Linked DNA regions of Homo sapiens. The protein of the gene in region 6 interacts with the protein of the main gene of each other region in a pairwise test. Each region holds a gene or a part of one and is shown on either strand. Other genes may lie near its edges. The genes, in order: HMBOX1, MID2, ZRANB1, OOEP, CCDC125, KIF9 and PRICKLE1.

Region 1 (3,500 bases), on a different chromosome or scaffold from region 6:
TGGATCAGGTACTGGTGACAGAATGAGAGGATAAATTACTAAAACAAAGTCAAAAATAAGTATTTTTAACCTTTGGGACAAAGCTTACTTAGACCATACTCCTTATTAAAGGAAAGTTAAATCTCAGTAGTCTCCTATACAATTATTCATTATTTTTGATGAAAAGAAGACTTCAAAGAGTTTTTCCAAAATATAATACAAAGATCTGAATTCAAAAAATATTTATTCCAACATTTCTTAAATTACTGGGGACACTATTATAAGTAAAATAAATTGACAGATGCTAACTCCAGCTTTATGAATTCTCAATGCTAAGATGACCTTATTTCTATAATACAGCATTTATGATATTCTAAAGTACTTTTAGAGATAGAACCAAGATACCAAGTTACTTGTTTGAAATGAAAACTGTCCCAGTCTATCCAGAGTTGATGTCTTCCCTAAGTTTGGGAGATCATTCGTAGAAAAAGGAGACACATACCTTTCCATAACAGCCAGGCACTCCTTTCTCCAGGTAAATCGACTCCCTCGTCGCAGTCGGAAAGTACCAGATGTGGCAGAGACTGGGGGAGGCGTTTGTCTCCATTCAGGGTCCTCTATTGGAATGGGGGCTGGTCTCATACTTAGTGTAGCGCCTGAAATAAACAAGACACTTTTAGCAAATATCTTGCAGTTTATTTAAAACAATATAACATCTACTTCCTATGGGACTAGGGAAGTATGGTCTTTGGCTTAGTGACAACTTAATCAATGTATCTTTCTCTGAAAAATTTCTTTTGAAATTCCTGCTTGATAGTTATACTCTTTTTGAACAATATACCTCAGATGTTCAGAATCTTTTACTAACCATTCAAATAAGTTATAAGCTTAAGGAATTTATGCAGGTAGGAGACAAACTTAAAATAACCCTAATTCTTGTAAACTCTTTTCTTTTTTAAAGAGTGAAATACAGCATGAAAGAAAATAAGATGATATTTGATATGCTTTTTGTCTACTAACTAAATCAGGTCTCCATAGGTCTACCTGTTGATGCTATACTAGATTCTGTTACCTCCTGAACATAATAAAATTTCAATGAAAAATATCTATAATTGAGACATTTTACTAATTCAGATTACTCTTTTCTCAAATAGCTTGAACTGCCAATGATGCATTTATTCATTCATTCACTATTTAACAAATCCCTTTCAAGTGGCTTGCTCTAGGCTAGAAGCTAAGAATAAAACCAGGAAAGCAACATTGTCTGTGACCTCCATGAACTTATTTCATAGACTTTCAATGTAACTTGGTATGCTTTCATAGAGTTCAGTCCCTGGCTACCCCACTCTTCTTTCACTCCTTACACTGTTAAATTCATCTTCCCAAAACATAATTATGATCATATCGGTCTTCTAATCAAAAACCTTCAAAAAATTCTCTCTGCCTGTAGTTTAATTCAAATGCTTAACACAGGTGTAGAAAGACATGTTAGAACATGTAGGTTTATGCAATATTAATAAATATGTTAATTCTATGTTAATGATATTAATATTTATTTCTTCCTAATAGAATTAATACTCTCTTTATTGTACCTTGCAAATAATACCATGGATAGCATTTCTACTTCAAGACTTACAGATCTATTGTAGATCCCCTTCTTAATAGCTACATCTTTAGATGTATTCTCTTACACAGATGTCCAAAATGTTAATCAATCCTGATTTTGCTTTTCAAACCTATTGTCCTGCAGTCTTTCCCATCTCAGTAAATAGATACCCACTCTTCAAACCACTCAGCTCAAAATTCTCAAATTAATCTTTCACTTCTCTAATTATCCCACCTATACATAACTAATTCATAGGCAAGTTCATTTTATCTTCAAAATATTTCCAGTATCAGATCAATTTTTATTCCTTGCACTGCTACTACTTTTAGAACACGTCAGCATCATCTTTCACAATCATGGTTTCCTGGGACAAGTTTCAAAGACGGCTCCTCACAGTAAGTCATACCTCTGGCTAATCATGCCCTTGAATCTGGGCCAGTCCTGTGACAGGTTGTTGAGCAAGAAAATCTAAACAATTCAAGGCTAGGTTATAAGATGCTTTGAAATTTCTGCCTAGGTCTCCTAAAATGCTGGCTCTGGGGGAAACCAGAGGCCATATAAGAAGTCTGACTAACCTGAGACTATGATGTTGTAAGGAAGCCCAGGATAGCCATGTGGAGAGGCTACATGGAGTGAAAGATGCTCTGACAGTCCCCAGGGTCTTCTGCCAACTCCACCCAGGTGCCAGCATTTGAGAGAAAATGCCATCTTGGACACTGTAGCCACAGCAAATGCCACATGGAGAAGTGCAGAAACCAGGTGATAGACAGAAACAAGGCCTCAGACATTCAGTCCCAGCACAGGAATGTGGACATCAACCTCCAAGGTCCCTAAGGATCCCTGCCTCCTGGTCTGCACACCTCCGTATAGTCCCTTCCCACACTGCACCATGATTAGGCTGTGCGACCAACAGCATGTGGCAGTGATGGTATGTCACTTCAAGGATCAGAATACAGAAGACACTATGACATCTGTCTTGGATGCTTTCTCTCTTATTCACTCAAGGGAAAACTAGCTGCCGTGTGAGGACACTCAGGCAGTGGATGGTGAGGCCCATGTTGTGAGGAACTGATGTCTCTGACCAACAGGCAGTGAGGACCTGGGACCTGTCCACATCCACATGAGTGAGTTTCCAAGTGGACCATCCAGTCCCAATGACTGCAGCCCAGGCTGACAGCTGGACAGCAACCTCTACAGAACTCTGAGCCAGAAACAACCAGCTAAGCCATTCCTGGATTCCTGATCTATGAAAACTATGAGATAATAAATGCTGGTTGTGTTAAGCTGCTAAATTGTGGATAATTTATTGTATAAGAATAGATAACTAATAAAAATTATCACAATCATCCTCAGTTGTTTATTTCCCTTTATCCCCCAATACACTATTATTAATTATTCAAATGTATAAATTTGGCAGCAAAAAATTTCCCTTTAATATAGAGACTTCACTACTAATAAGAATGAGCATCTTTTCCTGTTTATTGACCATTTATATCTTTTCTTGTGAATTTCTATCTGTTGTTCCTTTTTTAGGGGGTTATTCTTCTTATGGGTGCAGAGAAATCATAGCAATTGCTAGTCATACAGAATGCAATTTTTTTCTGGTCTGTCATTTGTTTTTTATAGTGTGCTTTGTGATCTTAATTTTAATACAGTCAAATTTGTCAGTCTTTTGTATTATGGCCAATGGGCTTGAATATCACTGAGTATCTTTATATCTTTCATTTTGTGTTTCAGCCTTTAATATGTATGTGATTTCTTATAGCATGTGATGGAAAGTAAATATTTAACTACTTAACATTTCTGCTTAAACAAGTAAGTTTGTCATCATATAATGCTTTAGAGATTTACAGCCCACCCTAAAACAGAGTTGGCAAATTATACCCACTGCCTATTTTTGTAAATAAAGTTTTAT
Region 2 (2,636 bases), on a different chromosome or scaffold from region 6:
CTATGACCCAGCTAACTCTCTCCATCTTCATACTTTTGATGTGACCTTCATTCTTCCAGTTTGTCCAACATTTACAATCTGGAACAAATCCCTAATGATCCTGTCTGGCTTGCCTGCCCCAGATTTTATTGATTACCCTGAGCGGCAGGAATGCAACTGCAGGCCTCAAGAATCCCCTTATGTTTCTGGGATGAAAACCTGTCATTAAGTTTCAGGAGAGTATATAATTCACTGGCTCTCTAGTTCAGCAGTTCTTCCCCTCCTACACCTAAGTTAGCGTTCAATATACGAGACACAAAATAAAGTTTGTTTGAAGCATCCAAAATAACTAGATATTGCAGATTTAATTTTTGTGCATTAAAGCTTGTATTTGAATTAATTTATTGAGTTTTTCAGAACAAATTATCTGAGTAGTCTGCGTTCAAGCCATTGGAGAAAAATTTAGAAAATGCCTCTGTTGTCATTGGAGAATTAAAAATTCCCAATGATTTAAGAATATAAATTATATTGGAAGCAATTAGGGTAATTCTAGTTAAATAATGTGGAAAGGTGCCCTGAATAAGGAGCTAGCAAGCCAGAGCGGGGGGTGGTCAGCCTTTCTAGTACTGGCCAGTTTGGCCATGTAGAATTTTGAACAGTGTCAAATTATCACATATTATATTTTACTTTTGATGAAAACCTATCATCAAGGGTTTGTTAGGAAACCATGAATGTGTATATGTAATATATAAAGTGAACATATATGTACTTTATATATATTCACTTGTGTATGTATGTTTATGCATATTCACTTTATATATTACATATACACAAAAAACTTTTTTTTCCAAACACCACCTCGAACTAGAACAAAAAACTTTTTAATTTGCTAATTTGAGTGAGAAATATACTGGAAGGGAAAATAAGTTACACCATCCATTTTTGTCCCCTAAAGGAAACATCAAAATCAATCAACATTTATTTCCTCCCTCTATCCATCATTGCCTTCCTCCCTCCTGTCACGCACACATACACATGCAACCATGACACAGATAATGGGAAGAGCTTTATTGGATTAGCAGAGATTTACAGACAAGATTGCACAAGAGATGCTGTTGCTGGATAGAAAATTGATCAGGTAGAAGTGATGCTACCTACTTGAGGATGGCCATCTGAATTGTTAAAAATTCTGTCATAGACTATTAAAAAAAAAGTTTTACTACTCCCAAGTACACACAGTTATGAGAATTAGGCTTTTAAAAAGTTGCACAGTGAAGGCTCTTTAGGAACCTACTTTACTTAATCAGTAAAAATTGAGTATTATTGATGCACCAACTATTCCCATATAAATGTACTTGCTTTTTCAGATAAAACACTTCTGAAGTGCTCAAGAATGTCTGAAAACAGTTTGTTTTCTTAAATAGGATAAATAATCATTCCTTTTGCAATCTTGTTTACAGTATTCATTCTCTTAGCCAATCCCTCCACGCAAATGGAGACAAACTTCATCCCAGTCCTAACCAGTATAGTTGAAGGGAATGGAGCCTTGTAGTCTATGATTTTTTTTTTTAAATTTCCATCGAAGGGATTGGGGATGTCAGAGAGCCAGAGCTTTCCCCTTTCCAGGAGCTAAGTTGGCTTCGGAAGTCTTCTGGGATTTGTGAAAATATTACTGTTGTAAAATTACAAAGTGGTAGCCATAACAACTCCCTCAGATTGGAGACTTGAAATGTCAAAACTCCCCTCTTCCTTTCCCCTAGTTTGGTGGATGCTCATTTATTAATTCATTCAATAAACTATTAGATGCCAGGTACCAAACTACTGCCATGGGAGTGCACATATTAACAAAATGCTCTACCTGCTGCCAAATGGCTTACTATTCTGTGGAAGAAACAAAGTATATAATCCTCCCCAATAACAGTTATGTATTGTTTGTTCACTTAATGTGGAAGGCAAGACTGATGCAGACACACAAGGAAGGCTCAAAAATATAAATCTAGCAGCAATGTCATCTTTTTTGATTTTAAATACCATATGTGCTTACTGCTAATCAGGAAATGAACAACCTCAGTAAAATTCATCAGTGCTGGTAAATAGTTTGCTGTAGTGGAAAGCTCATAACCTTTGGATTCAAATGATCCTAGTTTCTGTACCATTTATTAGCGTTGTGACCTAGGACAAGTACCTCACTTCTCTGAGCCTGTTTCCTCCTCTGTAAAATAATGTCTACTTCACAAGGCTGTTTCAAAGGTTAAAAAAGATAGCATATGTAAACTGTCTTAGCTCAGCGCTTGACATTTCCTAAGTGTGCCATAAATATTAATCTCTTTCCTTACTCCCAGCTCCAATACAGCGTAACAGTGCTTTAAAATGTATGTCCTTCATTTCTCCTTCATTTCTCAGTCACCTTTGTCTCTTCCCTAGGGCATATCCCCAAATTCTTAAACAAAAAAAAATGATTTTTTTCCCCTTCATCAAACTTTTCACTGGCTCCCTTAGCACCCAGTAGAAGGTCCCAACTCCTTACAGAGTCTGGGTTTTCATGTCCCTGTTTGCTTACACAGCTTAATCTTTTGCCACTTTCCCCCTCACATTGATTAAGGTAGCCAAGTTTAACTATTTACACAACTATTCACACAAGTTATTCTCTGGGCCTG
Region 3 (3,500 bases), on a different chromosome or scaffold from region 6:
AAGTAAATGAGATTACAAAGGAAATCAGTTGTATTGAAGTAATAGCTACCAAAATACTAAACTAAATTTGTGATATATAAGAAAATACATTTTAATATAGGTAAAAAGTTGGGGATAATTGATTTAACTTGAATTAAAACCAAATTCCCATTAAAGTACATGGACCATTCCCAAGATCATGGACCCTAAGTTAAGAACTCCCAGCCTACGGAGATGGTTGAGAACCATAAGGTTGAAGGAGGTGAGAAGGTGAGTGGCAGGCTTCAGGGGCACATCCTGCTTAAGGATGGTGGTGGAAGGGGTTGTTTGGGGGCTAAGTTTCTTTTAGAATGTTTGTGGTAGTCAGGGTCCAGTCCAGGTGGTTTTTGGAAAGGTCTTTCCAGGTTTTTGGAAAGGGCCTGAGAGCTAGCTGATGGGAATAAGCTATTTTTGAATTTACTTTGGGGGAGCCATTTTAACTATGTTACTTGAGAAATAGTCAATTATATTCTGAAAATATTTAATATTTGGTTTTCCATGTTTGAGTGTTGACTAATGGTTGGGCTCATGGAGTTAAGATATAGTGAGAATTTTCATGGTTAATGGTAATCTTGGCCAATAAAGTCTAGTTGAACTGAATTTCCACGTAGGAGTTTTTAAATTTTTTATTTTTTTCTTTTCTTTTGAGACAGACTTTCTCTCTGTTGCCCAGGGGAGTGATCATGGCTCACTGCAGCCTTGACCTCCCTGGCTCAAGTGATCCTCTCACCTTTCAGCCTCCCCAGTAGCTGGGACTACTGGTGCATGCCACTAATGCCTAGCTAATATTTTGGGGTTTTTTGTAGAGGCAGAGTTTCATTATGTTGCCCAGGCTGGTCTTGAATTCCTGAGCTCAAATGATCCTCCTGCCTTGGCCTCACACAGTGCTGGGATTACAGGTGTGAGCCACTGCACCAAGCTGCAGTTTCAGAATAGGGAGTCAGGTAACTGTGCTGGGTATGCAGGGTTTTTGAAATATTATTTCTTTAATAGCAATAGCAGTTAGTTGTCTGCATATATGATGTAGATAACATTATCATTAAACCTTACTCTTTGAGAAGAAGAAGAAGGGGCTGGAAGACCTGTTGCTTCACACCCCACTGTGGCTGGAAGGCTACCTTTGGGATAATCGTCCAGGTTGGTGACATCAGGGAACAGGCTCACTGTGGGTTCCCACGGTATTCTCTTTGGGGTTTTTTTTTTTTTTTTTTTTTTTTGGCAGAGTCTCTCTCTGTCACCCTGGCTGGAGTGCAGTGGCGCGTTCTCAGCTCATTTCAACTTCCTCCTCCCGGGTTCAAGTGATTCTCATGCCTCAGCCTTCCAAATAGCTGAGACTACAGCTAATTTTTGTAGTAGTATTTTTAGTAGAGACAGGGTTTCATCATGTTGGCCAGGCTGGTCTCAAACTGCTGAGCCGAAGCAATCCACCCGCCTCGGCCTCCCAGAGTTGGTGGGATCACAGGCGTGAGCCATTGTGCCTGGCCTTGAATTCTGTTTGTTACTCGCAGATGCTCAACTGTGATTTTAGAATTCTGTGTATGTATTTTTATTTAGCTCCACAAACTAGATATGACTGAAATGTGAGGTTAAATTAAATCTTTGCAACATTTGTTGCTATTTAGCATTTTAAAAAGAATAAAAAAATAACAAAAGAAAGTTCTAGCCTTCTTTGGTTTGTTGTTTTCTTGCTTAGAGGCCTGTGCAGTAGTGCTCCCATCTCACTCCTGTCAGGCTGAGCTTCAGAGGTTGGCAGTCTGTGTTTAAACTTGCAGATGCCAAATGCTTTTTTAAAAACTCAAGAGTGGTAACAAATGGAGAGGAAGAAAGGGCTTGAGGTCAGTGGGAACTAACCCTTTAAATACCGTGCTTTTTTTAAGTCCAAGTTAGGGTACTTGAAACTTGTGGTGTGGGAGAAGAGTATTTGCAGTTTCCCTTTATCAGCTGTGATTCTCTGCTTCTAAAGAATGTTTTTATTGTGTGCACGATGGTTAGTCTACTGAGGTTTTCTGTCCTCTCTCCTCTTCCTGTGATGTGTCTATGAACAACACCCTTTTCCATACATTTTTATGTGCATCTTTGAGTATTTCCTTGTGATAAATTCTTAAAGAGAATTACTGAATCAGAGGATAAAACATTTTTGTGACTGTTACTGAAAACTTATTCTGGTATATACTTTCATTGGTAAGGAAATAATACCAGTGTATTTTAAGATTAAAGAAAACCTTGAGTTATTGGGAAATTTTGCTGATTTCTTTTAAATACTGTTGTTTTCTGCTTCCACTTATGATACATGAGATGAGAGGAAGGTTTCTTTTGTATTTAAGGTGTCTCAACAAGCAGCAAAGTGTATTCCAGCAATGGTGTGTCCTGAACTGACAGAACAAATCCGGAGAGAGATAGCTGCCTCTCTTCATCAGAGAAAGGGGGATTTTGCTTGCTATTTTCTGACTGACCTTGTAACATTTACATTGCCAGCAGGTAACTCCAAAATCTAACGTAAAAAGACTTTTTTATTTTATTATAGTTACATTTGTGTATGTAGGTGAAAAATGTTTCTGTTAGAAAGCACATAACATAGCTACTGTATGTGCATCTTAAATTACTTGACTGTCTTATATATGCTGGAAGTGAGCATACAGAGGATTACTTGTTAGGAAATGCGTCTGCTATCTGAGAGGAAGACAGCAGTTGATAGTAACGGATTTCTTTGTGGACCTCAGATTATTTTTTAAAAATCTGTTGTACTCTTTTATTTTTCTCTTTGGTTTTATTTTAGAATATCCTTTAAAAAAATCTCCTTTGAAAAATTTTCCCTTTTCATGCTTGTGTGTTATTTGAAATTAGATAGCTATATTGGTTACCTGGTATTAAGAGATGGGATTAGAACATGAGCTTTTGATGGGTAGAGTCAGGTTATTTGAATTGAACACACTGCATCCTCTTGAATATGTCATTCCTTTTTTACTCATTTATTTCTACTATGTTTGTGAAGGAACTTTTCATTTTTCAATTCATTGACAGTTGAAAACATCCTCCAGAATGCGTTTTGTCAGTTGGCATTGAATAAATACACCAAACACCAAACGTTTCTAAAATCTTTCATCTGAGATTCTGAGATCTGTTTGTTTTGTTGCTGTTTTTTTTTTTTTTAGATTGAAACGGGGTCTTGCTCTGTTGCCCAGGCTAGAGTGCAATGGGCGTGATCATAGCTTACTGCGCCTTCAACTTCTGGGCTCAAGTGATCTCCTGCCTTGACCTCCTGAGTAGCTAGGACTATAGGCACATGCCACCCACCCCTGGCTAATTTTTAATTTTTTTGTAGAGATGGAGTCTCGCAGTATTACTCAGGCTAGATCTCAGTGTTTTTAATTTTTATGTTCAGACAAACGGATTTTTACAAATTGTAGGAGATAGTAACTAAGTTTTCTGAAACTGGAGGAAGTTTCATTTGAAATGCACTTGTTCTGAGTATTTAAGCTTAC
Region 4 (3,100 bases), on a different chromosome or scaffold from region 6:
CATGTGGAGTCTGGAACATGCTTTTCACTATTTTGAGTTTTTTCTTCTATGCTGGCTGTGGTGGCTCACGCCTGTAATCCCAGCACTTTGGGAGGCCAAAGTGAGAGGACTGCTTGAGCCTAGGAGTTCAAAACCAGCCTGGCAACATAGTGGGACCCTGTCTCTACAAACAGACAAACAACAACAACAACAAAAAGAGCTGGAAAATAGCTGGGTGTGGTGGCAGGTGCCTGTGGTCTCAGCTACTCAGGAGGCTGAGATGGGAGGGTCGCTTAGGCCTGGGAGGTCGAGGCTTCAGTGAACCGAGATCGTGCCACTGCATTCCAGCCTAGGCAAGAGAGTGAGACCTATCTCAGAAAAATAGAAGTTTTAAAACAAACACATAGTTAATTGTAAGAACGAAATAGTATATTCAGCAGATACTATTCTGAAACAACCAAACAATATTTCTACAAATATAGTAGAAAATGTGTAAGGACATGCATGGGGATGATATATACACACTAGCTTCAGGATGATTTCCTCTGGAGAAGGAAAGGAAAGATGCTTGAGTAATATCTGTTTTAAAAACAGAGGAGTGAGGCAAATGTGGGGAAATGTCAACATCTGTTAAACTCGGGGAGGGTACATGGCCGTGTTATATTACTTTTTTGGATGTGTGAAACCTTTCATAATCCAAATTTTTAATTAAAATTACAAACATTGGGAAAAAATGTCCATCGATAATGGTTGTCTTAGGATACTGGAAATAAAGGAAAATTGTCTAACTTGCTACATGTTCTATAAGACCACCTCTGACGTGTTGTTTAAAACATGACACACTTGCTTGAATGATTTAAAAATGGTAACCATCCGGAGAGTCAGAAGATAACAACAGGGAGCAGAACAGAGAAAACTGACACATTGAACAAGCCTGCCCTGGGTCCGATATACCTATCTTTGGGAGGCAACGATGAAACCTTAACCTAGCCAGCAAAGGTGATTCCCAGTCTATTAATAGAGTCGTCAATTCAAACTCACACTGTTAATCAGCTATAAGGTGGGCAGAGGACTTTCAGGCTAAGCATACCTTACGAGCAGAGATGACGAAGGAGAGCATTGGAGACCCAACAGGAGGCCAAATGAATACTAGTTCAAGGTCAAAGAGGCAATCCCGGCGATTGAAGCAGCGCAGGAAGTGTCCAATGGTGCCGCTATGCCGGGGCGTCGCTTGCACCCGCTCACCCCGACGCGGTGCGAGGCGCCGCCGGAAGGGGCGGAGCGGGTCGAATATGGTAAAAGAGAGCCCGAGCTTCGCGCCTGGGTCTGGAAGAGGTCTTGCGAAAGCCGCCTCGAGCGCGCTCCGCGGCTGCTGGTCCCAGTATGGTCGATGATGCTGGTGCCGCTGAGTCCCAGCGGGGCAAACAGACTCCGGCCCACTCCCTGGAGCAGCTGCGTAGGTTACCACTTCCGCCGCCACAGATTCGCATCCGGCCCTGGTGGTTTCCGGTGCAGGAACTGAGAGACCCTTTGGTGTTCTACCTAGAGGCATGGCTGGCAGACGAGCTCTTTGGTGAGCGACCCCAGGTGTGCTAGTGGGCTGTCCACCTCCAGTCTGAGAGAGGCTTGGCAGAGCAGCTCTCTACAGTCTCTTTCCCAGATTCGCAAGCCAGGAGTGTTGCAGTGATGCCCACCTTCCAGTTCTTCCCTTCCCTGGCCAACATTCCCTTCAAATCCAGCTTCTAACCTGCCACCGTGCAGCCCCTCAGAGTTTTTCCTTACTTGTTTAGGCCCAGACCGAGCCATAATTCCAGAAATGGAGTGGACGAGCCAGGCCCTGCTGACAGTGGACATAGTGGACTCAGGGAACCTAGTCGAAATCACCGTTTTCGGGCGGCCCCGTGTACAGAATCGGGTGAAGAGCATGCTCCTGTGCCTGGCATGGTTTCACCGAGAACATCGTGCCCGAGGTGAGGGTCTTTGAGAACCTGCATGTGGAGGAAGCCACGAGTGACCATACTGGCCTTGCTCGGTTTCCTTCCATCCTCCCTTAACCTTCTCAAAATTTCTTGGTTTCCAGACCCCAGGGAGCTAGCTGTACGAAGTTTGTTGGGAGGGGATCCTGGGGTAGGACCTTGGGAAAGTCAGCAGAGATCTGATAGATTCAGACCCATCACTGCCCAAGTCAGCCTCACCTGGGTTACAGCACTATCGCAGATCTTTCTCTCCTCCCCAACTCCCAGTCACGGAGTAGTTCGAAACAGCAAACACTTGTCCCTGTCCATGGTTAGTATCAACTGCTTCTCTTCCAGCTGAGAAGATGAAACACCTTGAGAAGAACTTGAAGGCCCATGCATCAGACCCCCACTCTCCCCAGGATCCTGTTGCTTAAGACAACATAGTTACTGTTGGGAACATCTTAACTTTCTAACTTTTGCTGCTAAAGTTGAAGAAAAGCAAGTATAGCATTCTTAAATCCCCGTATTCCTTTTTCCTGTGTCTTGATGGATTGTGGTTTATTTTGTTGCAAGAGTGAGTTTGAACTATTCTAATAAAGAAATGGCTATTTTGCCAAAAGCATTAAGATCTTCACACACTTATAATAAAGCAAATTTATAAAAGATTGACTCCCACTCATGTTTTGATATGAAGGGTGGGCAGGTGATAGTTTTGTAGGTTTTTGTTTTTGTTTTTTTTTCCTGAATTCCCATCATTTTGAAACTCCTAATCCTTTTATGATTTTCTGGTCAGAGAGAGGCCCTCACCCACAGGGAGCGGATATGCAGGGGCAGATAACCTCACAAATGGTGATCTGTTTTGTTTTTACATAATTGGTCCTCAAACTTTAAAGCTTGTAAGAAATCACCTTGGGAGCTTGTTAAAACACAATTTCCTTGGCTCCTTCTCCAGAGAATTCTGATTCAGTACTTTTGGGGTGGGGCTTAAAATTTCATTTCTGATGAGCTCACACATACTACTAAAGCAGCTTATCTGAGGCTCTCACTTTGAAGCTGGTAATTGATCCCCCGAAGAGCACCAGCTGTGCGTTTTCCTGGAGTGGGGCATCCATTGGGCAGAGGATGACGTTGCAAGAAGCAAGCCTGGGCGGTCAGCGTTCATT
Region 5 (3,500 bases), on a different chromosome or scaffold from region 6:
AACTAGATATTTTAGACTTTTACTTTAAGTTCTATTTGAAGTCATAAATAATAGAAACTTGGTATACTCTGATGTTAATTTCATTGAAATTCTCCAAATAATACAAAACAGTGGCTAAGAGTGTTGGCTCTGACATCAGATATCTGGATTAAAAATCTGTCTCTGGGCCAGGGGTGGTAGCTCATGCCTGTAATCCCAGGACTTTGGGAGGCTGAGGTGGAAGGATCCCGTGAGGTCAAAAGTTCAAGACTGGCTGGCCCGAGACCCTGTTTCTACAAAATGAATTAAAAATTAGCCTGGCAAGGTGGTACACATCTGTAGTCCCAGCTACTTTGGAGACTGAGGTGGGAGAATCACTTGAGCCTAAGAGGTCGAGGCTGCAGTGAGCTGTGGATGCCATCACTGCACTTCAGCCTAAGCAATGAGCAACAGAGTGAGATGCTGTCTCTCTTTTTTTTTTTTTTTTTTTTTTTTTTGAGACAGAGGGTTTTGCTTTTTCACCCAGGTTGGAGTGCAGTGACACGATCTTGGCTCACCGCAACATCCACCTTCTGGTTTCAAGTGATTCTCCTGCCTCAGCCTCCCGAATAGCTAGGATTACAGGCACCTGCCACCACACCTGGCTAATTTTTGTATTTTTAGTAGAGATGAGGTTTCACCATGTTGGCCAGGCTGGTCCTAAACTCTTGACCTCGTGATCCGCCCACCTCGACCTTCCAAAGAGCTGGGATTACAGACGTGAGCCACTGTGCCCAGCCCGAGACCCTGTCTCTTAAAAAAAATCCATCTCCACTTCTGGTTGACTGTGTTACTCAGTCTCTGTCTGCTTCAGTTTAATTTTCGTACTTAATAATGGTATTTTCTTGCAGAGTGTTTGTAAAGAATAAATATAATCTAAGGCACTTAAAACTGTCTAGCACATGGAAAGCAGGCAACAAGTGCTAGGTATTATTACATCTTTTTTTTTTTTTTTTTTGAGACAGAATCTCACTCTGTTGCCCAGGCTGTAGTGCAGTGGTGCAAGCTCGGCTCACTGCAACCCCTGCCTCCCGGGTTCAAGCCATTCTCCTGCCTCAGCCTCCCAAGTAGCTGGGACTACAGGCATGCACCACCACACCTGGCTAATTTTTTGTATTTTTTAGTAGAGATGGGGTTTCACCATGTTGGCCAGGCAGGTCTTGAATTCCTGACCTCACGTGATCCGCCCACCTTGGCTTCCCAAACTGCTGAGATGCAGGCATGAACCACCACACCCAGCCTAATGAGTTTTGATAAGTGGCCACTGTGGTGAAGATATAGAAGTTTTCCATTACCCCAGAAAACTTCCCTCATGCCCTTTGTGGTCATTTCTCCAATGCCAAGCAACCATTAATTTGTTTACCATCATTGTGTGTTAGTTTTCCCAGTATTTCATACAGTATGTGCTGTTGTTTATTTATTTATTGTTTTAATTAGTGATGGGGATCTCGCTATGTTGCCCAGGCTGGTTTCGAACTCCTGGCCTCAAGTGATTCTCACACCTCAGCCTCCCAAAATGCTGGGATTACAGGTGGGAGCCACCACATCCGGCCTAGTATGTGCTTTTTTGTTAGCGTAATGTCTGGGAAATTCATTGCATATATCGGAAATGCATTGCATGTGTAATGCATATGTCAGAAATGCGTTGTTCTTTACTGACAAATATATTCTGTTGTATGGACAGACCACAGTTTCTTTGTTTTACTGCAGATGGACACTTGGGTTGTTTCCAATTTTTGACAAATTGAGTGATGTATGAATATTCATGCACACATCTTTGTACGGACATGGGGTTCTGTTTCTCTTGAGTAAATCCTGAAGAATGCAGTTGCCAGGTCACATGTTTGTAAGAAGCTATCAAATTGTTTTCCACAGTGGTTGTACCATGTTTTACTCACATCACCAATGTATGAGAGTTTCAGTTACTCCACATCCTCAGCAGCACTTGGAATTGTCAGTGCGGTGAGGTGGAATCTCACTGGGGTTTAAGTTATAATTGCCTGATAACTAATGATGCTGAGCATCTTTCCATCCATGTATCTTCTTTGATGACATATCTGTTCAAATCTTTTAAGGGTATTTGTTTTTAACATTGAAAATATATGGCATTTTGATCCTAAAAATGACAGAAATTCCTTAATACATGGTCAGATTTATTTGGTGTCTACATAAGGTTTAATAGTGGAAGAATAGAGAGATCTCCACAACAAATGCAAGACTGAGATTAAATGTCTTTCGAAGTTTTGGAAGCAACTACTTAAACAGCAGGATATTTAGAGAAAAATGTTAGACATGTTTATACCCCCACACCCCACTTTTTTTTTTAATGAGCCTTGAGAGAAGGATGAAATATTTCTAAATAGCTATAGCAAAGCAGCTGTTTTGAAATGCCTGGTGGTGAAAGTCCCTCTTAACTGCACTCTGTCCTGGAGGCACAAGGTTGAGCATTTCTGCTTCTCCCGGCTGCTTCACTGTCACCAGGTAGGTGACTAGGGTGGTCTCCACATGGGGAGGGCTCAGTGATACTAGTTGATCTGTAGGCATTTTTGCCAGGAGAAGTTTTCTGCTGGGAAGAAAGGCAGGCATAACTCCTCTGTATCTGCTGTGGAGTCCTGCTAGGGTGCCGGTTTTGTTTTTCTGCCCTAAAAGCAAGTACAGTCTAACCAAACCTGCTGTGCGTGGCCTGAGGTGGGATAGGAGCTCCGTGAGTTCCACATTGGTTGATTCAACCAACCAGGGTTGAAAATATTTGGAAAAAAAAATCCACAGTGTTCCAAAAACAAAGACGAATTTGCAGGACTCAGAGTACGAGGTTAAATCCACGGGAATGAAGTGATGTATAGGCAGTGTATTAGATATTATACGTAATTTAGAGACAATTGAAAATATATATAAAGTACACAGGAGGATGTGCCTAGATAATATGCAAATATGATACCTTTTTGATTAACAAATTAACAAATTTTTTTTTTTTTGAGATGGAGTCTTTCTCTGTCGCCCAGGCTAGAGTGCAGTGGCGCAATCTCGGCTTACTGCAACCTCTGTCTCCCAGGTTCAAGCAATTCTTCTGCCTCAGCCTCCTGAGTAGCTGAGATTACAGGCACACGCCACAATGCCCGGCTAATTTTTTTGTATTTTTAGTAGAGATGGGGTTTCACCATATTGGCCAGACTGGTCTTGAACTTCTGACCTCAAGTGATCCGCCCACCTTGGCCTCTGAAAGTGCTGGGATTACAGGCATGAGCCACCGCGCCAGGCCGAACAAAAAATTTTTTGAGATAGAATGTTGCTCTGTAGCTTAAGCTGGAGTGTGGAGGCACAGTTATGGCTCACTGCAGCCTCCACCTCCCAGAGCCAAGCAATTCTCCCACCTCAGCCTCCTGAGTAGGCGTGTGCCACCAGCTAATTTAAAAAAAAATTTTTGGGCCAGTGCGGTGGCTCACACCTGTAATCCCAGCACTTTGGGAGGCCAAGGCGGGTGT
Region 6 (3,500 bases):
TCAGGTCCTCCCAGACCCTAAACTCACCCCAGTTAGGGAAGAGTCACCAGTCGGGAGGGAATCACCAGAAGCTGAAAGCATACCCTGTGGATCCAGGAATGGCCAGGATGTCTGGGCACAGAATGAGGAATTGTACTTTTGCTGTGGAAGAGACAGGGTAGCTTCTCTGATGATCCTTCCTGTCGGCCCCCACCCTACCATGTTTCCCGGCAGAGAATGGTCAAGAACCTGGAGAAGGAACTAGCACTACTCAAGCAGGAGCTGGCTATCCATGACAGCCTGGTAAGAGGCTAGAGGCAAAGAAGGAGGGCAGAGGTGCTGGGGTAGGGGGTGACTAGAGGGACTGGGGCTAGGGGCAGACAGCATCATGGGTCAAGGCCAATGGTGGGCGGGGTTGGGGGGCAGGCTCAGTGGCAGGAAAGGGGCAGCAGCAAGGGTCCATGAGGACAGGGGTTGGGAGCAGAGTCCTCCAACGGTCCTGAGGGGCCTCGAGGCAGAGGCAGCGCATGCCTCCCGTCCTCGCCTTTCTCATGCTGCAGAGTCTGCTGGGACTCAGCCAGCAGAGCCTCTGTCTGGAGTAGCAGGACCCATGTCTGAGGGTCTTTCCTTTCCTCCCCGACCCCATTATCCCTCTCTGACCCAAGCACCTGGCCTGTTGTGTCAGGCCCTCTGGCAGGACCCGATGATGAAGGGAAGGAGCCAGCTTGGGCAGCCAGGGCCTGTGCCCAGCCTCCCCACTTTGCCTCTCAGAATGGCCCCTGCCACTCCCCTGTGGGCTCAGGTTCTTGTTGCTTATCCACATGTTCTTCATCCTCCTTCAAGACCAACCGCACCTTTGTGACCTATGACCCCATGGATGAAATCCAGATTGCTGAGATCAACTCCCAGGTGCGGAGGTACCTGGAGGGGACACTGGACGAGATCGACGTAAGGAACCCCTCTGTGACCACTATGCTCAGCCAGCCTGGGCCTCCCAGTCCTGGGCACACCCCAACGCATGCTCTGCTGGCCTCAGAGCCTCATGTGAATGGGTGCAGTGGGTGGAGGGTGGTGCTGGACTCTTGATGTCAGGGTCCCTTCAGCTCATCTCAGGGGCACAAGCACAGGCCCTAGAGCCAGGCTTTCTAGGATTGAATCCCAGCTCAGCTGCCTCTTTGCTGAGTGACCTTGGCAAAATACTCAACCTCGTGTACTTCAGTGGCCTCACCTGCCTAGTGGGGAGGGAAACAGAGTGGGGATTAACTGAGCTGCTGCACCTGGGGTGCTTGACTGTGTCCGCAGAATGAAGCTGATGAAGGATGGTGGTCATGCTGGTTGTCTACAAGGTAGACCCCAGGGCCCATGTTGGAGTGGGCCAAGGAGGGGGAAACCACCCCACAAGGAAGGGTCCTCAGGGGGAAGGCTGCATCCTGTTTTCACAGTGCAGTCCATCAAACCCCTCTTCTTGGAGACATGGGCAGACCCCCCTGGCTGTTACTGTGGGCAGCTCCGAGAAGCAGGCCTGGGACAACTAAGGGATGGACTCTTCTGGCCTTCACAGGAGGGGCAGTCCCAAATTAACCCTTGATCAAGGGGAATGCTGTGGGCTTTAGGCTGGGGGGAGGCCAGTAACCTTCCTCCAGCCTCGTGTGTGTGTCTGTGCCCATGCAGACAGGACCATAAATGGGCTCCATCTGAAGACAGCAGGCAGAACCTTTTGGAAGTAAGAGAAAGCTGAGAAGTACATTTTATTAAAAAAAAAAAAAAAACCTTTAGAAGGTATTTTCAAGGTATAGAATCATTTCATTTTATAGAGGTCTCCACTTCGAAAAGGTGGTTTTTATAGCCTCAGCAAATACTTAGTTTTAAAATTATTAATCAGGTGTTTCTCTGCTCTGGAGGAGGGCTTGGCTGCCACTTCGCTGAGAGGCTGTGTGCACACGTCCTCTTCTCGAGACAGATGGTCCAGGGGTCAGCCAAGGGGTCTTGATTTCTCTACTAACATAGATGCCCCCTGGTCCCTCGAGGTGCCCTTGGTCTAACCTCTGCCTTGCTGTCTTCCCTCCAGATAATCAGCCTTAGACAGATCAAGGAGGTGTTCAACCAGTTCCGGGTGGTTCTGAGGTGAGAGACCCCCACCCCTACCTCATTCCTACATCAGGCTGCCATTTTCATCTCCTGCCATCTGGGCACTTGCCTCCAAGAGCTCCTCTTCTTGCTTGTGGATGAAGAGCCAAATCAGAGTCCTTGGGGGCATGCCTGGGTCCCTGGTGGATATTCAGTGAGTTCATTAATTGGACAGGAGGTGTTTATGGAGTGCCAGCTCTGAGAGTGCCCAGAGCAGGGCATTGTGAATATTCACCTTGTGAATATTGCAACACACACTCCCACCTCAGGAGGCATTTGTGGTTTATTTGGGTGCAAACATACCCATAGTCTGAGCAGCTTATGCTAGGTGGTGTCACTAAAGCTGGTCATGTGATTCCAAGTGGCCTCTTAGAGACAGAACCTAAGACAGAACCCCACATGGTCCCAAGTGAAGCTTACGGTCCTTATCAAGTGTCATCTTGGAGCAGACACACATGACATAAGGTAGCCCTTGTGGGTATGGGGGTCGGACAGTGGGTATATGCAATGGGGCAGGGGGAAGTGAGTCCTTTGTCCTTTTGTCTGGTCTGGTTCATGATGAAGGTGTGGCCCCACACAAGGGGCCTCACCCATATGACTTTTAACCCCAGTACTTGGTTCTTGCCCCAGTGGATTCAGCATGGCCCCAGGTACAAGCTGTTCTCTCTTGCTGTCTCCCAAGCCAACAGGAACAGGAAGTGGAGTCCACTTTGCGCAGGAAGTACACCCTCATTGACAGGAATGACTTTGCAGCCATTTCTGCTATCCAGAAGGTAAGCATAGTTGCTACTTGCCGACAGCACTCACCTCAGATTTCCCATCCTCAGACCTTTGCAGAGCCAGCAAGTATTAATGCATTAAACCAGAGCTAGGATTGCAACAGATAAAGGTAACACCAGAATGAACACAGGTGACCTGTGTTAAGAGTAAACCACTTTTGAATTAAAAATAATTTCCATAAGGTAGAGACATGGATAATAATATTAAAGACGATTTCCTGGAATTAGGTTGGAAATAAGCTTTAAGATCCCCAGAGTATGGAATGAGGTGCCATACTGGTGAGGGGGTGCATGTGGAAAGTGGACATTTGGCAGAGTGGTCAGGGACCGCTCTACAGGGGACAGCCTGAGGCTGGCATCAGCAGCTGTCAAACCTTGGTGTGTATGGTGAACATGTCCACCCTGAGCCTTGGGCCATATACATGTGGGTCCCCAAGGGGTCCAAGCCCTTAATCTAACTCACAGACCTTTGGCTGGCCTCTCTATGTAGGCGGGGCTTGTGGATGTTGATGGCCACCTAGTGGGTGAGCCTGAAGGACAAAACTTTGGACTCGGAGTCGCCCCTTTCTCTACCAAACCTGGGAAGAAAGCCAAGTCCAAGAAGACATTCAAAGA
Region 7 (3,500 bases), on a different chromosome or scaffold from region 6:
TTCTCCTGGTAGGAGTTTTAGAGTTACTAATTAAATTCTTAACCTCTGGTTCTCTTCCTTTGACATGTGGGAGTGGTTTTTTCAAAATATCCAAGACATTTTCTGACTCATTAACACATCCTTTTTTATTGAGGAGTCAGAGGAATACGCCTATGTTTAGAAAGCCTTTCCTTAGTCAAGACATGAATGAGTCGCACCTGTGTGAAATGATGCCTTGTTTAAAAGGTCATAACCTCCCAATGGTAGTGTAGGAAATGAGGTCATCTTCACTTCTTGTTCAGGGTGAATGAAAGTTAAATTTATTAGTTGGAATAATATATGTGTGGCATTGCTCCTACTGCTAATAAAGATTGTAGCTATGAGGTGCTTGCCCTTCATTTATGAACTGTTACAATGTTAATTTTCTCAATGTCCTATCATTTATAAAAGAAAAACCATAAATTTTAATCAAGTTTTATTTTATTTTATTTTTTTCGAGACGGAGTCTCGCTCTGTCGCCCAGGCTGGAGTCCAGGGGTGCAATCTCAGCTCACTGCAACCTCCGCCTCCCGGTTTCAAGCGATTCTCCTGCCTCAGCCTCCCGAGTAGCTGGGATTACAGGCACCCACCACCACGCCTGGCTAATTTTTGTGTTTTTAGTAGAGACGGGGTTTCACCATGTTGGCCAGGCTGAGCTCAAACTCCTGACCTTGTGATCCATCTGCCTCAGCCTCCCAAAGTGCTGGGATTACAGGTGTGAGCTACCACGCCCGGCCAATAATCAAAGGTTTTAATAGGTAGTATTTTCCAACACTCAGTATTTAGAGTTGAATTGAGATAGTCACTGAAAAATGACTTAGTCTCAGGCTGAAAGTGTATGGCTTTTCACTGCCTTTTACACTTGTTTAAGCAAATGAGAACTTTTTTTTTTTTTTTGACATCCTTCCTGAGATGGAAGAATGTTTATTGAGGCAGAAGAATTTTTGGAAGTCTGACATGTCAGTGTGTATGTGTGACTAGACTCTGGCTTTTAGCCATATGACCTTGGACAAGTCTCTTGACTTTCCTGAATCTTGTTTTCTCTAAAATCATTGGGTCGGGATAATTATCTATAATTTTCTTTCTTTACATCATTTTTTTGTGGGTGAAAGGCCCAGGTATAAAAAAGCTCCATCTCTCCATCTGGTTCTGAAAGTTCTGCTATTATTATTTTTTTCTTTGTGCCCTGGGATGAGGGATGATTTTAATAATCAGAAGATACAAAGAACATAAATGGTGATAGCAAAGTTCCTGGGTTCTAGGGCAGGGAATGTTGTCTTGACACTTTTATAGCCCTTCATCCAAGGAGGCTTTTTATTCAGAGGAGGATTTACATCTTACTCTGCCCATAGCAGGCTGATGACATTTCACACATACTAGGCACTGACTGCATAACTTTTCAGCGAATGCCTGCTTATGATGCAATTAAACATTAACAGTCACCAAGCTGGATTTTATTTTCACATAGTACTGTATTCAGTGACTGTTTGTTGAAGGAACTCACTGATGAATGTCTGACTGACTTTAGCCCTTAGTAAAGGCTTGAGGATTTAATGTGCAGTATAAGGATTTAATTGTGCTATTTCTATTTTGTGTGTAAACTCAGTTTAGTGTCTTACAAAACATAATTAGAAATCTGAAACCTAAGCAGTTTGGCTGAGTGGACCCACTCTCAGGAGGCAGCACTGCCTCAGTTGGAAAAATTGCTTAGGAAATACAGGGGTGCCGAGTGGGGTCTTGAGCCATTTTTCCTGGGGCATAGTAGTGGGCAAGGCAGGTAGCCTGACCCCGACACTTCTTTCTACAACTTACAGTATGTCACAAGGATTTGTGGGCAAGTTAGAAAGTCAACACATCAACTTTCTTGAGAACTTTTCTAAGGAATCGACTGTAGAGAGGCACCTTTTAAAGGCTCCTGGAAATAAACTAGCTTTGGTGGCATGTTCTGAAATTCTGAGCTGGCAAAGAGACTACTACCAAATTATATAGCTCTAAATTTTAAATTTCAGGGGGCCTGGGGCCTGGGGGTGGTGACAGTAGTAATTTGGTTACTTTCTCTGGGCCCAGCTGTCTGTTAACAGCATTCAATAAAAGCTCTGGGTCGGGGGTAAGAGAAATGCATTCAGGTTTTAGATGTCTTTGTTTTTTCTTATATTGTTCACAGCAGCCATTGTTTGATGTCCTGTGACTGAGAAACCAGGCTTTAAACTTTATGCCTTTGGAGATGGAGCCCAAGATGAGCAAACTGGCCTTTGGCTGTCAGAGAAGTTCCACATCAGATGATGACTCTGGCTGTGCATTGGAGGAGTACGCCTGGGTCCCCCCGGGCCTGAGACCAGAGCAGGTAGGAACTTCATCATCCTATATTTACTCTTTGTTTTTCAGTGTGAGTTCAGACTTTAGAACATTATTTTGTAAATGGATAGAACATCACTGAGATGCTGGAATACCACCCTCCTCAGTCCTTATTCTTCTTTGTATGGCTTTGAAGTTTTACTTTTGAAGGTCATATTTAGTTTCTCAATGGAAGTTTCCAATCTCGTCGTACCCATGGTTCCAGAAGCCTCATAAGGATCCCATTTTTGCTCTAATGAATGAAATCCAGAGTACTACATATGCATTGGTTATGTGTATTTCGGATGAATCCCTCTTGAGAGTGAGAGGAATTTCCCTTTTAAAAAACTTCTGTGACAACAAAAAGGCAATAAAAGAAAAGAGAAAAGTTTCCATGCCAGTTCTCAGCAATGCTTTTGCTTTGGAAGCGAGATAGTGAGCTATCAGAAACCCTCTGAAGTGTTACTGCTTAGACGTTTGACCTTTGATAACTTTGCATATAAAAGAGCCTGTCACTTACACCACAGGGATTGGAAAAAAAATTAAAGAGTTAATTTTATGCTTTGTTTGTATTGTTATTTTAGGGAAGATGAGAACATTCCATATGCCTATTTAATTTTCCCAATATCTTTACAATGATTAACTTGTTGAAAATCACTGGCGATATTATTAAAAGAGCAGAGGCATCATTTGAAAATAAAGTTGACAGTGGGGTATGTGGTTGCTTTGCTTCTGATGTTAGGGTTCTGTTTCCTGTAGGGTGGGACGTTTTATGAGAATAGGGTATCCTTATTTATCCATGGCATAGCACAGTACCTGGCACGCATGTAGCTGATATTCAGTAAGTGTTTATAACTGTAAAAAGCTTCTAGAGCTGATAGAATGGGGAGAGGGTGGAGTGCTGGTGAAGCAGTTAGAAAAGCAATATTTTGACAAACTACTTAGAGAGAATCCCTTCTTACAACTTAGAGTGGGTAGGTTTTGTGTGGTACTAAGGTATTGAAGTAGACAGGCCCTAAATTCCTGTCTCCTGTCTTTTTTTTCTTTTATTCCTTCTCAGCTCTGCAGTATCCTTTGCAGTACTCATTAAGGGATGTTCCTTTAAAGACATCAGAAAAACAAACAAGCAGAAATTAAGTTTTCCTTTC

What was found.
Region 1: the proteins of KIF9 (region 6) and HMBOX1 interact in binary tests that used the Homo sapiens proteins (3 or more experiments, as listed by UniProt).
Region 2: the proteins of KIF9 (region 6) and MID2 interact in binary tests that used the Homo sapiens proteins (3 or more experiments, as listed by UniProt).
Region 3: the proteins of KIF9 (region 6) and ZRANB1 interact in binary tests that used the Homo sapiens proteins (3 or more experiments, as listed by UniProt).
Region 4: the proteins of KIF9 (region 6) and OOEP interact in binary tests that used the Homo sapiens proteins (3 or more experiments, as listed by UniProt).
Region 5: the proteins of KIF9 (region 6) and CCDC125 interact in binary tests that used the Homo sapiens proteins (3 or more experiments, as listed by UniProt).
Region 7: the proteins of KIF9 (region 6) and PRICKLE1 interact in binary tests that used the Homo sapiens proteins (3 or more experiments, as listed by UniProt).

The regions. Positions count from the first base shown.
Region 1 is NC_000008.11:29,015,895-29,019,394, reverse strand, and holds part of HMBOX1 (homeobox-containing protein 1), read right to left. Parts: intron 636-3,500; coding exon 482-635; exon of another isoform or gene 1-481. UniProt on the Homo sapiens protein: Binds directly to 5'-TTAGGG-3' repeats in telomeric DNA. Associates with the telomerase complex at sites of active telomere processing and positively regulates telomere elongation.
Region 2 is NC_000023.11:107,926,866-107,929,501, forward strand, and holds part of MID2 (probable E3 ubiquitin-protein ligase MID2), read left to right. Parts: coding exon 1-208; 3' UTR 209-2,636. UniProt on the Homo sapiens protein: E3 ubiquitin ligase that plays a role in microtubule stabilization. Mediates the 'Lys-48'-linked polyubiquitination of LRRK2 to drive its localization to microtubules and its proteasomal degradation in neurons.
Region 3 is NC_000010.11:124,969,623-124,973,122, forward strand, and holds part of ZRANB1 (ubiquitin thioesterase ZRANB1), read left to right. Parts: intron 1-2,342; coding exon 2,343-2,496; intron 2,497-3,500. UniProt on the Homo sapiens protein: Ubiquitin thioesterase, which specifically hydrolyzes 'Lys-29'-linked and 'Lys-33'-linked diubiquitin. Also cleaves 'Lys-63'-linked chains, but with 40-fold less efficiency compared to 'Lys-29'-linked ones.
Region 4 is NC_000006.12:73,368,055-73,371,154, reverse strand, and holds OOEP (oocyte-expressed protein homolog), read left to right. Parts: upstream 1-1,257; 5' UTR 1,258-1,362; coding exon 1,363-1,552; intron 1,553-1,769; coding exon 1,770-1,949; intron 1,950-2,291; coding exon 2,292-2,371; 3' UTR 2,372-2,600; downstream 2,601-3,100. UniProt on the Homo sapiens protein: Component of the subcortical maternal complex (SCMC), a multiprotein complex that plays a key role in early embryonic development.
Region 5 is NC_000005.10:69,322,802-69,326,301, reverse strand, and holds part of CCDC125 (coiled-coil domain-containing protein 125), read left to right. Parts: intron 1-1,589; exon of another isoform or gene 1,590-2,499; intron 2,500-3,500. UniProt on the Homo sapiens protein: May be involved in the regulation of cell migration.
Region 6 is NC_000003.12:47,244,800-47,248,299, reverse strand, and holds part of KIF9 (kinesin-like protein KIF9), read left to right. Parts: intron 1-213; coding exon 214-282; intron 283-822; coding exon 823-927; intron 928-2,047; coding exon 2,048-2,103; intron 2,104-2,788; coding exon 2,789-2,879; intron 2,880-3,375; coding exon 3,376-3,500. UniProt on the Homo sapiens protein: Essential for normal male fertility and for progressive motility of spermatozoa.
Region 7 is NC_000012.12:42,471,247-42,474,746, reverse strand, and holds part of PRICKLE1 (prickle-like protein 1), read left to right. Parts: intron 1-2,182; 5' UTR 2,183-2,230; coding exon 2,231-2,362; intron 2,363-3,500. UniProt on the Homo sapiens protein: Involved in the planar cell polarity pathway that controls convergent extension during gastrulation and neural tube closure.